Linked DNA regions of Homo sapiens. The protein of the gene in region 2 purifies or fractionates together with the protein of the main gene of each other region. This does not show direct contact. Each region holds a gene or a part of one and is shown on either strand. Other genes may lie near its edges. The genes, in order: ARID1B, FLI1 and ARID2.

Evidence for each region.
Region 1: the proteins of FLI1 (region 2) and ARID1B purify together in Homo sapiens (affinity purification with mass spectrometry, with the first as the bait; one large-scale study listed by BioGRID). This does not show direct contact.
Region 3: the proteins of FLI1 (region 2) and ARID2 purify together in Homo sapiens (affinity purification with mass spectrometry, with the first as the bait; one large-scale study listed by BioGRID). This does not show direct contact.

Annotation. Positions count from the first base shown.
Region 1 is NC_000006.12:157,207,378-157,211,432, reverse strand, and holds the end of ARID1B (AT-rich interactive domain-containing protein 1B), read right to left. Parts: coding exon 3,542-4,055; 3' UTR 654-3,541; downstream 1-653. UniProt on the Homo sapiens protein: Involved in transcriptional activation and repression of select genes by chromatin remodeling (alteration of DNA-nucleosome topology).
Region 2 is NC_000011.10:128,766,952-128,770,604, reverse strand, and holds part of FLI1 (Friend leukemia integration 1 transcription factor), read right to left. Parts: intron 2,488-3,653; coding exon 2,333-2,487; intron 1-2,332. UniProt on the Homo sapiens protein: Sequence-specific transcriptional activator. Recognizes the DNA sequence 5'-C[CA]GGAAGT-3'.
Region 3 is NC_000012.12:45,848,088-45,851,740, reverse strand, and holds part of ARID2 (AT-rich interactive domain-containing protein 2), read right to left. Parts: intron 2,906-3,653; coding exon 2,771-2,905; intron 2,184-2,770; exon of another isoform or gene 2,162-2,183; coding exon 1,965-2,161; intron 1,706-1,964; coding exon 1-1,705. UniProt on the Homo sapiens protein: Involved in transcriptional activation and repression of select genes by chromatin remodeling (alteration of DNA-nucleosome topology). Required for the stability of the SWI/SNF chromatin remodeling complex SWI/SNF-B (PBAF).

The DNA.
Region 1 (4,055 bases), on a different chromosome or scaffold from region 2:
CCTCAGAGCCTAGAACAGAGCCAGGCACATAGCATGTGCTCAACACATCTCTGTTAAATTCATGAGTAATGTTGCCTGTTCGCAGATTAAATGCTGCTACCAAGTGTATTCATCAGAGTTTTTAACAATCTTGCCTGACCATGAAGTTTACTTCCAAGTTCTTCTAGGCTGGTGCTGAGCAGGACTTCAGGCAGCTGGGCCACGGCCCTCGAAATAAAGAAGTGAACCAACACTCAGCAAGAAGAACAGGGACTGTTTGCACTGTCCATTTGTGGCTCATTTATAATACTTTCTTTGCTTCCTCAAAGGTGAACAGACATGGGAACAGGTACATGTGGTTTGATAGGAAATGAAAGATTTCCAACAGTTTTAAATGGATGGACTTCAGGGCAAAGGCTGGCTTCTTTTCATAAAGGAGGTAGTTAATAGCTTACATTGTATGAGACTGCCCATATGCCCTTAAAAAAATCATTCTTCATTATAACTCTGAAAAAACAGCTTAACTAGTCTTTGAACAGGCCACCTTCATCAGTAAAACATGCTTCTATATCATTCTCTTCCTCGAACAAAACACTGTGAATAGCTATTGCTGAGCAGACGCCGCCCAGTATCTCTTATGTGACATTAAAAAAATCCACTCAAATACCAACAGATTCAACTTTATAGCACCATTCCAAAATACTAAACTTTCTTTGCACCTTTATTTTTTATCTTTTTTTTTTTTTTGGTACACATGTAAAGTCTGGGCATCCTGTAAATTTCTGAAAAGCCTCATAGAAAAAAAAAAACCGACTAATTTTTAGGACAAAGCAATAACTCAGTTTATAGGCAAGATGATCTCAAGCAGGCTGTAAATTCTTCGTGGGCTTCTGTAAATCTTGATTCGGGGGTGAGAATATGGAAAGGAGGCTAAAGTCTTCCTGGATTAGTCTCTAGAGACTGTGTTGCGCATCAGGATAGAAAAACTTGTTGCCCAACGGTCAGACTCTGCGTATCGGTTACAATGCAAACCATAACAACAGTCTTTTGTTAATTATTTTACTCTTCTGATTGACAAAGGAATTGGAATACTGGATATGTTCGGAGTTTGTATACACCTTTTATTTGTACTCTGTAAGAGAGAAATTAGAATAATATTGAATTCCCTCTTACAAATCTCCATATTTGAAGCTTGGAGCACTGAAATCTGTTCTTAGCAAGCAGATGTATTTAAAGCAGAATTATAAATGGGTCTTTAATTCAACATATATTTGGTTGCATTGTTATGTAAGAAGACTGTTTGACTCAGTAATGTGGGAGTTGACAGATGAGAGACTGTTTGCAGAAAAGATGATTTTTTTCCTCGTGACACTGGAGAGTCACGTCTCACAATGACTGTAACTGCATGTTCTTGTCTAACTCTTCCATATATTACTGTGAGTAATGTGAACCGACACAATGTATGCGAGGGGCTGGGGATTCTGAGTATACTGTGATTGGGAGAGGGAAGAGAAGAGGTAGAGGTCCACTAACAGCATAATTATGCAGCAGTTTCAAAGAAATCGATTATTACACAGTAACAGTCAATGACCCAGGAAGAGAAAGTTTAAATTAGAAGTGACTAGTATTAAAAAGCTACTGTGCACCAGGTAGGAAGGAATATGAGAACCATAATATGCCCTGAAATAGAAATCATCACTTTGCACTATGTACACCACATACAATATAACAGATTCTTTTTTAACATTGCACAGTATAAATATTATACACGGTGGAGTAAACTAAATGCAAAATAACTCTGAGGCACACAGAAGAAACAAGGAATAGATTGAACTTTGATTAAACTAAGATGGAGTTAGTAAAAGGCAGAATGTTACATTTTCAGGCCAGTTAAGCTTCTGAGATCTCACCTCAAGTGGGTCAGCAGCCACCTCCCATAAATACTGAAAATGATCATACCTCAATGTCGTTAGAGTTAATTGCTTCAAAGAAAGACTAATTAGCTAAGTAATTTGAGAAAATCAAACTGTTGCTCCCCACTCTAAAGTAGGTAACCCCTAAAGGTCTCTTCCAAATGTAGGGTTTTATAATGTGAATACACTGCTGCATTCCCCTATTTCTTGTAAATAACTTGATTACTAGGAAACCACTTTAAGGAAACTAGAACAGTATTCAAGAACACCCATCACAGTGCTTAACAAGATTTAATGTACATTTATTCTTAACATGTGGAACATATAAAGATTTTATACTGAATAAATGATATTCATTAAGCCAGAGGAAAAGGAGGAATTTACATCAAGTTTTTTTCTTTTTTTTTTTTTTAAACTACATTATCTTGAAATACAAATGTGGATTCTCATCACTGAAAAATCTTTGAAGTTGTGTTTCTTCCTTTTAGTTGTATTTTTTTCATTTTCTCTTTTTTGACTGTACTGGTAACCATTTTCTAAATCAATCCATATATAACCATTTCCACACCTTGATTCATGAAGCAAATTGTGATCAGCTGCTCTCCTGAAATCGAGCATGACTTTATACATACAGAAACTTGTACATTACCCTCTTTTTTTTTTGTTTTTGTTTTTTGTATTTTTTCTTTCTTTTTTTGGAGATATGGCCCTAATGAAAAAATATATAAAATAAAAATAAAAAATTATTTAAATCTACCATCACTTCGTAGTTACCACATCATGAAAAAGAAACTAAAACTTTGTACTAAAAAAAAAAAAAAAAAAGAAAAGAAAAAAATGAGGGTATGTTTAATGTACAACTTCTATATACATCACAGCCCATAGGCAGTAAAAAAAATATTTAAAAAATGATGAAAGGAATTGTGAAGAACTGTCACGTGGAAGGTCAAACGCCGACAGCAGGCATGACGGGAGTGGTGAGGAGCAGTTTCCGGATCGTTGTCAGGTATGTATTCTCAATCTTAAAAAACATTGTTTTTGCTCCCAGCCTAATGGAACCATATTCCTGTGGAGAAACCAGTATCATTTCATAGTTTTGACTACTGACCGACATACCTCCTTGAGCCCCTATACCTGTATCTGTAGAAATTTCTATTGCACAGAACTTTGGGTGATGGGATGCAGTTTTTTTCATTCTCTGAGGAGTAAAACGCATAGGAAATGGATAATTTTTCACCTTTTTGACTCAGTGTGGTGAAATTTTCGCATCTTAGCATCTTTTGCCACAACTTTTTTCTTTAAAGTCAATTTGCTTCCCCCAAAAATGCAATACAACATGGGAAAGAACATTAAAAAGATCTGTGAAGAACAAAAAGTGACCTTTGAATGCACTAGACAGCAACTTTGGTTAAAAAAAAGAGAAAAAAAAAACCCCAAAGGATGTACTTATACACACAGACAGCAAATATTAATTTCATAACTGTTCAAATTAATTATTTCTTTAATTCCCAATTGGTAAATAGTGAATGGGGCAGAGGAGCAAAGATTTTCTTTTCCTTCTTCCTACGCTGGATAAACAAGAACAGAAAACAGCCAGTTATATGTGACCCTCTAATCTTCACTCACACATGCTTGCCTTCTCACTTATGTCATAACTGCCCAATCTGAAACAGTACATCACAGATGACAGATGCAACCAGAGAGTTCAGGACAGCTGATATCGAGATATCCAGCAACCGGCCCTCGTGCAAAAGGAATTCCGAGCGGTTTTCGTCCACTCTGGCCATGGCTAGCAAAGCCTTGGCCGCCCTGCACATCATGTCTACGCTAGGTGGTTCCAGGGGCGGGGGCTGCATGTGCATGAGGTTGTGCTGGCTCTGCTGGTACTGGGCCATCGTGACCCCATCCTCTAGGAAGCTTATCAAGTTTCCAATGCTTCCTTTCTGCACAGCTATGGCCCTTGCTGCTAGTGCGTCCCCTTGGGCAAGGTTCGATAAAAGCGCCATGGACATTTCTCGACAGACTGGGTTTTTGCGATCCCCAACGTACCTAACTAATGTAGCATAGAATTTCTCCTGACGACTAAATGGAGGAGTGGCCAAGATCAGGTCCACATTATTGTCCTGGATACTGAGTTTACAGAGGGTCTCCAGCACAAGTCTC
Region 2 (3,653 bases):
CCTCTACAGCACAATGAATTATAAATCTTCAACTCTGGATCATGCTAAACTCTTCCAAATGCATTTCCTGGATGATTTAGTCCTAGTTTCTTCCCATCTGAACATGGAGCTAGTGATTAACTAGGGCCCACATTTATACTTGTCTTTAAATCCCATCATAAATTCAATCGGTTATTCCACTAATATTTTATTGCCTTGATTTGTGGACTTGCCCAAATGAGACTTCCCCTCATATCCACAGCCTGGCCTGGAGGAAGCCAAAATGTGTGAGGACCTAAAAGATCTAGCCGGAGCTAAAATAATGAAGTAAATCCATAGCCTGAAAGTGCTTTGAAAATCATTTGACATGAATTTGTTTTATTTTCACCACCAGCGCTATAGGTAACTTGGCTCAGCCAAGCCTGATGTTTTGCTATTCCTTTTGAAAGCATTTCAACACTGATCAAAGAAAGTTTGGAGGGTCGACATAGCAGTCTGGCCACTTCTGCCCATTTCCAAGATTCCTTCCCCAAAATGACGACCAAAATGAGATGGTGCCAAAGGTTGGTTCAAAGACAATCTCAGATCCCCAAACCCTTCAGTCCAGCAAGCTTTCCCTCCCAGGCTGGGAGCTGTTTGACTGAAGCAGGGGAGTTTGAAACCATTTGAGTGAAGACCCAGTGAGGCTCAGCTTTGCTTTGGGCTGTACAAAGAGATTCCCACCTGTCAGTTCTAATACAGTTTCATTGTCTGCTTTCAGTGAGGAGGGAGACGATACACCTGGGCTAAACATTACTAGCTGGTCTCCTGTGACAGGTGTTTTAAGTAATGCCATGGAGATAAAGCAATTTACGTGGTGCCTGGCACCTAGAAAGCACTCAATAAATGGAAGTGATTCTTCCTCTTCCTTTGTTAGGTCAGATGCTTGTGGAAGAGCAAACTTAGAATTGCTTTAGGAGTCATTTCTAAGTCCTAAAGGGTACAGAGAAATTTCTACAAGCCCCACCCGTCTGCTGCCTCACTCTTGCTCACACCTTCTTGAATTTGGCCCAGAGCACAGGGAGGCAGCTGTAATCCAGGGATATGGTGAGATGCAGCTTCCCAGGGAAAACAAACACCACGGGCCAAGGCAGGAGGCAGCCCTTAACATTTCTGCCTTTAGACCTACAAGCAGATGCCTTCGGACTACCTCAAAGAGATGTCTAACCTTTTGACTTCAGAGGCAACTACATTTATGCTTTTACAAATGGAAGGAGTTTTGCCTCTCTGGTAAAGTTATTTTGGTAAGATCAGGTTTAATCCCTGCCCTGTAATCACTTTGCTTAAGATTTGGACATCCTTGCCCCTTCTACCTGGCACCAGTTCTACACGTGGCAGTTTGTAAACACCCTTCTTGTGCAGGCAGCTGAGCTTGCTGGTGCTAGCTGGGGTGGAGTGTCCAGCCAATGGACTGAAGGACTGAACGATGATTTTATTTTCTGGGACCAACAGCACCAACACCTAGGAAAAAGAGGCTATTTTTACCTAATGACATAACTTGTGGCACACATGTTAAGGCACTCCATTAGTTAAATATAGTTCTTTCTATTTTAAAACTGAAAGAGCTGGCTGTAATTTTGGAAAGGTGGAACCTGGTAGATGCCGGGAAGTACGAGCCTGGAGGGAAGGACTGGCCTCTGCAGCTGACCTCCTCCTCACAGGCAGGGATGCCCACATCCAGAGCTCACGGGATTCCTTTTGGGTGGAGGCGGCCTTGCCTCTGCTCTCTGAGCAGCCCGTCCTTGAGGACCAGGCCATTGATGTAGAGTCTGTGATGTGGTCTGTTTAAGGGTGGGGCTTCTAGCACCCACACATCAGGTGACATCTGGGATACTGCCTTAAAGGGCAGCTAGGAAGTCAGGTAAAATGTGCAGCTTTTTTTTTTTTTTTTTTTTTTTGAGACAGAGTCTCATTCCATCACCCAGGCTGGAGTGCAGTGGTGTGATCTTGGCTCCCTGCAACCTCCGCCTTCCCGGTTAAAGCGAGTCTCCTGCTTCAGCCCCCTGAGTAGCTGGGAATATAAGCGTCCACTACCACACCTGGCTAATTTTTGTATTTTTTTTTTTTTTTAGTAGAGATGAGGTTTCACCACGTTGGCTAGGCTGGTCTTGAACTCCTGACAAGTGATTCACCCGTCTTGGCCTCTCAAAGTGCTGGGATTACAGGCGCGAGCCACCACTCCCGGCTGGCGTGCAGCTTTCTCCATTTTGCAATTCCACAGGGAATAGAGTATCAGATAAAGGTTTAGATGCTCCCTGCCCCCCCAGAGAGTGGGGAAGTGAATGGCGCCCAGGCAGCCTGGTTCTCGAATTACCTGCGGGGACGATGACTCTCCTCTCGTTGGTGGTCATGTTGGGAGGAGGGGGGCCATTCTTCTCGTCCATATAGCTGTTGTAGTTCATGGGGTTGGACTCGCCTCCGCCCACCAGCTTGCTGCATTTGCTAACGCTGCAGTCCACCGGAGACTCCCTAAAGTGAGAAGAGACAAAGCCCAGAGGCGGTCAGCACTGACAGGGCAGCTTGCCTCAGCCTCTGAATCATGAGCCCAGGGCTCCGATGATGAGCATGGAGCCATTGCCCGGCCACACTTGGTGTCATGATGATGATGATGCCCTCTTTCTATCCTCCATGCTGCCACCAGAGTTTTCTTCAAATCCCAGCCCAATCCTATAATTACAGTACGTAAAAACTGCTGGCAGCGCCTCAGTGCCCTCAGACCAAGGTCTGAGCTTCTTTGTGTGGCATCGCAGCCCTCCCTGTCTGACTGCAGCTTACATTTTTAGCCTCACTGCCAGGCAACCTAGTCCATGCTCCCAGACACGCCTTCCCCACAGTCCCCCAGCACTTGGTGCCCGCCTTGGTTATAAGGACTTGTCACACTGTCTGATTCTCAGCTTGGCCTGCGCCCCCTGACTGCTGAGTTCTTGAGAGGATAGTCATCACTTTCTTTGTTTAACCCTAGTATTCTTACAGGAGGTGAGCAGCAAATGCTTTCTCAGTGAGTTATTTCTATTGCACATATATAAGTTTAATGCATTTCTTATGCACTGTTGTATTCGAATTTCCCAATAAGCCCCCAGGATAGGCACAGCAAGGGTTACTATCTCCTTTTCATGGTTAATGAAATCGAGACAGGGGCTGCCTGGCTCAGTCACACAGCTAGTCAAGGTGGAAACAGGACTCAGGTCTTCTGTGTTAAGCTTCACTATCAAGCACACATGCAAAAGAGCTGGTTGCTACTTGGAGAAGGAATGGAGTCCAGGAACTTCCACCTGATGGAGAGGTGGTGGCCCTGTGGCATTTTGCATCCCTGGCCCCAAGCTCACTGTGGAAGCAGTATGGACATTCACAAGAGAGAAAGCAGATCATCCAACTTAGCCTAGAACTACAGAACTTGATCAGCACCTGGTATTTTGCAGCACTGGTGATGGGCAGCTGTCTGGAGGGGTGAAGTCCCACCCATGGCCACCTGGCGCCCTGAAGCTGGCTGGCAAACACACTCTGCATGCCCTCCAGCCCAGCATCACGCACCTCCAGCATACTTGGGGGAGGTGCCACCCTGTCACACCCAGTGCCCGCTGCTCAGCCACTCCAGCAGCAGCAGGACCAAAGGAGACGATGGGAAGGCCAAGGAG
Region 3 (3,653 bases), on a different chromosome or scaffold from region 2:
GTTCCGCTCATGGTAATTCCTGCTGGAGCAATGAGCTGAGTTGCATTTCCCTGACTCACAGTTGCAGGTGCAAAACTCGTATTTGGCACAACTGTTATGGTTACCTGGTTGCCAGAAGTCCCTTGGAAAATGGTTGCTGGGCTATTTGAGATCAGTGGACCTGGCAATATTTGTAAGTTCGAAATGGGCACAGTTTGTACTCCCCCTGAGGGTGGCATTGCACTTGGGACCAACTGAACATTTTGCTGCCCAACCAATAGCTGCTGAGCTGGAGTTTGCCCCTGCACTCCAAAACCTGCGGCTTGGTTACTGGCCACCTGATAGACCACCTGAGGGCTAGGAGCTCTTGCATTATTAGGGGGAGGAATCTGTGGAGCTGGGAGAATAAGCTTACCACCTGGTGTTGAAGGACCACGTTTCGGAAGCAGAAGCTGTTTAATCAGACTCGACTCACCAGAGGCAGGCTGACCAACTCCTGCATTCGACTGTTGAGGTTGAACTTGCATCTGTACTTGTTGGGGCTGCTGAACTTGTACTTGTACCTGCTGTGGTGGGGGTGCTGGTGAATGTTGCTGCTGTTGCTGCCTTTTCACAGATAACATTTGACTGACAGTAGGAGGTGGTCCCTGTGATTGAGGGGTAGAGGACGACGACATGGCAGTAGGGACTTGGTTATTAGTAGCTGGGACAGGTGATGGTGAAGAAGATGGAGTTATGTTAGGTTGTCCAGTTAGCTGAACTGTCTGACCAGCTGGAAGAGCTGCTGGATTAGCAAGAACAATTTGGTGAATGGCTGGTGCATAAGTTTGACCTTGTTGAGCTGGCTGGCTTACAATCACTACGCTTTGTTGGGTTGGCTGCTGTGGTTGTTGAATAGGCTGCTGTACCACTGTAGATGAAACTTGCTGAGAAGGGAGAGGTTTTGGTGCAATGTTCTGAAACCCTACCCTTGAGGCTTGTGGACTTGGGACACCAGCAATAGTAACCATTTGTCCTGTAGCTACCTGAAAATTCTGTACTGAAGTTGCTGAGACAATATTGGATGCAGAAGTTGTTACATACTGTGGGGGTGCTATGATAACAGTATCTTGTGACTGGCTACCAGCTGATGTCTGTTGAGATGAAGTTTGCACAGGTTGGGGTGATGTGGTGATTAACTGTTGACCCTGTGAAACTGTAGAAGTACATGCTGGTATGTTCTGTACTCTGCCAAACATATGACTCTGTGGGACAGCTTGTTGAATTACTGTAACAGGAGTGCCTGAAGGGATCTGTCCTGGTACCACTGTGTGTAATGGAGACTGCTGTGGAATTACAGATGGATGGTGAAGCAATGTCTGAGAATTCACAACTGTAACAGGTTGTGGCCCTGTACTATGATTCTGAACAACAGAACTCTGTGGAGGTCCTCCTCCAACAGCAATACTAACAGGAACTCCTGTCTGGGGTATGGAATTCTGGATAACTGTAGCCTTAACAACTTCACAAGGAATTGGAGCTTTACTTTGAATGACAGTCACTGGAGCATTTTGTTGCTGGTGGGTATGAGGTGAAGGATTTTGTGGAATTCTTGAAACAGTTTGTGCCACAGTATGAACACCTTGTACAGGAAAAGACATTTGTGTTGCAGTCAGATTTGAAGATTGGTTGGCAACAGGAGTCCTCTGAAAATGGTTTCCTATGGTTTGTGATCCATGAGGGATTCCTGAAAATATGAAGAAAACGTCAAAATTCCAAATGAAATGACTGAAAATCCCAAGTAGGAATTATTTTACTTAAGAGAAAATAGTTTTAAGAAATTAACATCTAACAATTTTGAATCATATGAATATGGTAATAGACCAAGTAAGAAAATGCTACTGGAGACACAAAAGTTATACATTTAAAATGCATAGAATATATATTTTTCATTCAGTTTTATTATTAAATCAGTAATACTTTAAAAATACAATAAAAATTAACACCTGCAGGTGAAGGAGCAGGAGATACATCAGGAACAGAATCAACACGAACAACAGAAGTAGAAACTGGTTGCTGCTGATAGTACATCTGAATGGGAAGTGGTATAGCCCTCCGTTTTACTCCTACCACATGAATATGTGCCTGCCCATTGCTACTGGAATCCTCCACTCTCTTCACTGTATGATTTGGAAAGACCGTTCTGTAAAGTACATACATAATCAGTAAGTTTTGATAACTATCACATTGACTTCTAACATTATGTTTACATGAACAACAGCAGTATGTTTACTGTTGCTTATGTATGAACCAGTATGACTCACAGTTATATTCTGCAAGGATGGAAAGCAAAGAAATATAAAAGATTAATCATCCCATTTAAAACATCATTATTTATTAACAATGTCGCTGGGTTTTAAACAATTCCACCCACATATAACTAATAAAAGATACCTATTTTTATGTACTTTGCAAAATATCAAAAAGTCTTTGTATTTGAAGATAATAATATTATATTCTATTATTCAAGATTAAAAAGATACAGTCATGTCTTTAACATGTAAAAGTAGGTAGGAAAAAGAAAGTAAACTTCATTTCTTTGATAAATCTCATAATGTTCCAACACAAACACTAGATGTGATTTCTGAAACTGCTTTTTATTTAAACCTCCACCACACTATAACCTATCCATACGAAACTTCTAGTAGTAGAAATATTTAAAACTAGATAAGATATTTGGTATTTTCTTTAAAGAGCAAGAGATGTTGTAAGTGACGTAAATGGACTTTATTTAAAGAACTATGGATCCTACCTAAGACATTTATAAAATCCAGTTGATGTTAGGATTCCACCACGAGCTAATTTACTGCAAGTCGAGAGGTATTCAGAATACATTTCTGCTCGAGAAACAGAACAATCTGGATTTACTTCAAAATGAGCATTTAGCCTAAAAGAGGAGAAAAATTAAGCATTATACAATATACTCTAGGAAACTCCATATTTAAATATACTAAAGCCATGTGGAGGCAATGTGTTAAAACTAATAATTATACCTACTAATCAAATTTCACTGACTCATACGTTAGTAGCAAAAATATATGCTAAATTTTAGATTAAATCAATAGATTAACATGCTTATTTTAGTATTAAAAATGACACTGACAACAAATATAAAAACTATGTTCACATCCCAATGAGAGCAGGGTTGGTCTGCTGACAACAAATGTTCTATAAGAAATAGTTTTATTTAGTGAATATCTATTCGGCATCCTGTCTTGTAATAATCATAACATAAAACAAGTTCCCAATTACGTGCTATTTGCATTGTAGCTGAAGAAAATGGGGGGAAACTGAACTAAGGTTAAACTTTCCTTGGCTCTTGGATCAAATTCCTTCAGAAAAAACTTATCCAAGCTTTTCAGCTACTTCCTAAAACAATGACACTTTCCATGCTGCACACTCCCATTTCCCCATTTCAAAACAGTTTTAATTTGTAATCCATTACAAACTAATTCAAACCTCATTTTGTCTTTTTCTTAAAATGACCTTTACCTATAAATTGGGATTGGAGGCCTGATTACCCTGATAGGCTCTTTCCATAACTCACTATGTATAATAGGCTAAACTTAGTTTTTCTGAAAAACTAAATCAAATAGTAATTATGATTTAAAAAAAAAACTGTAAAATGATTCTCT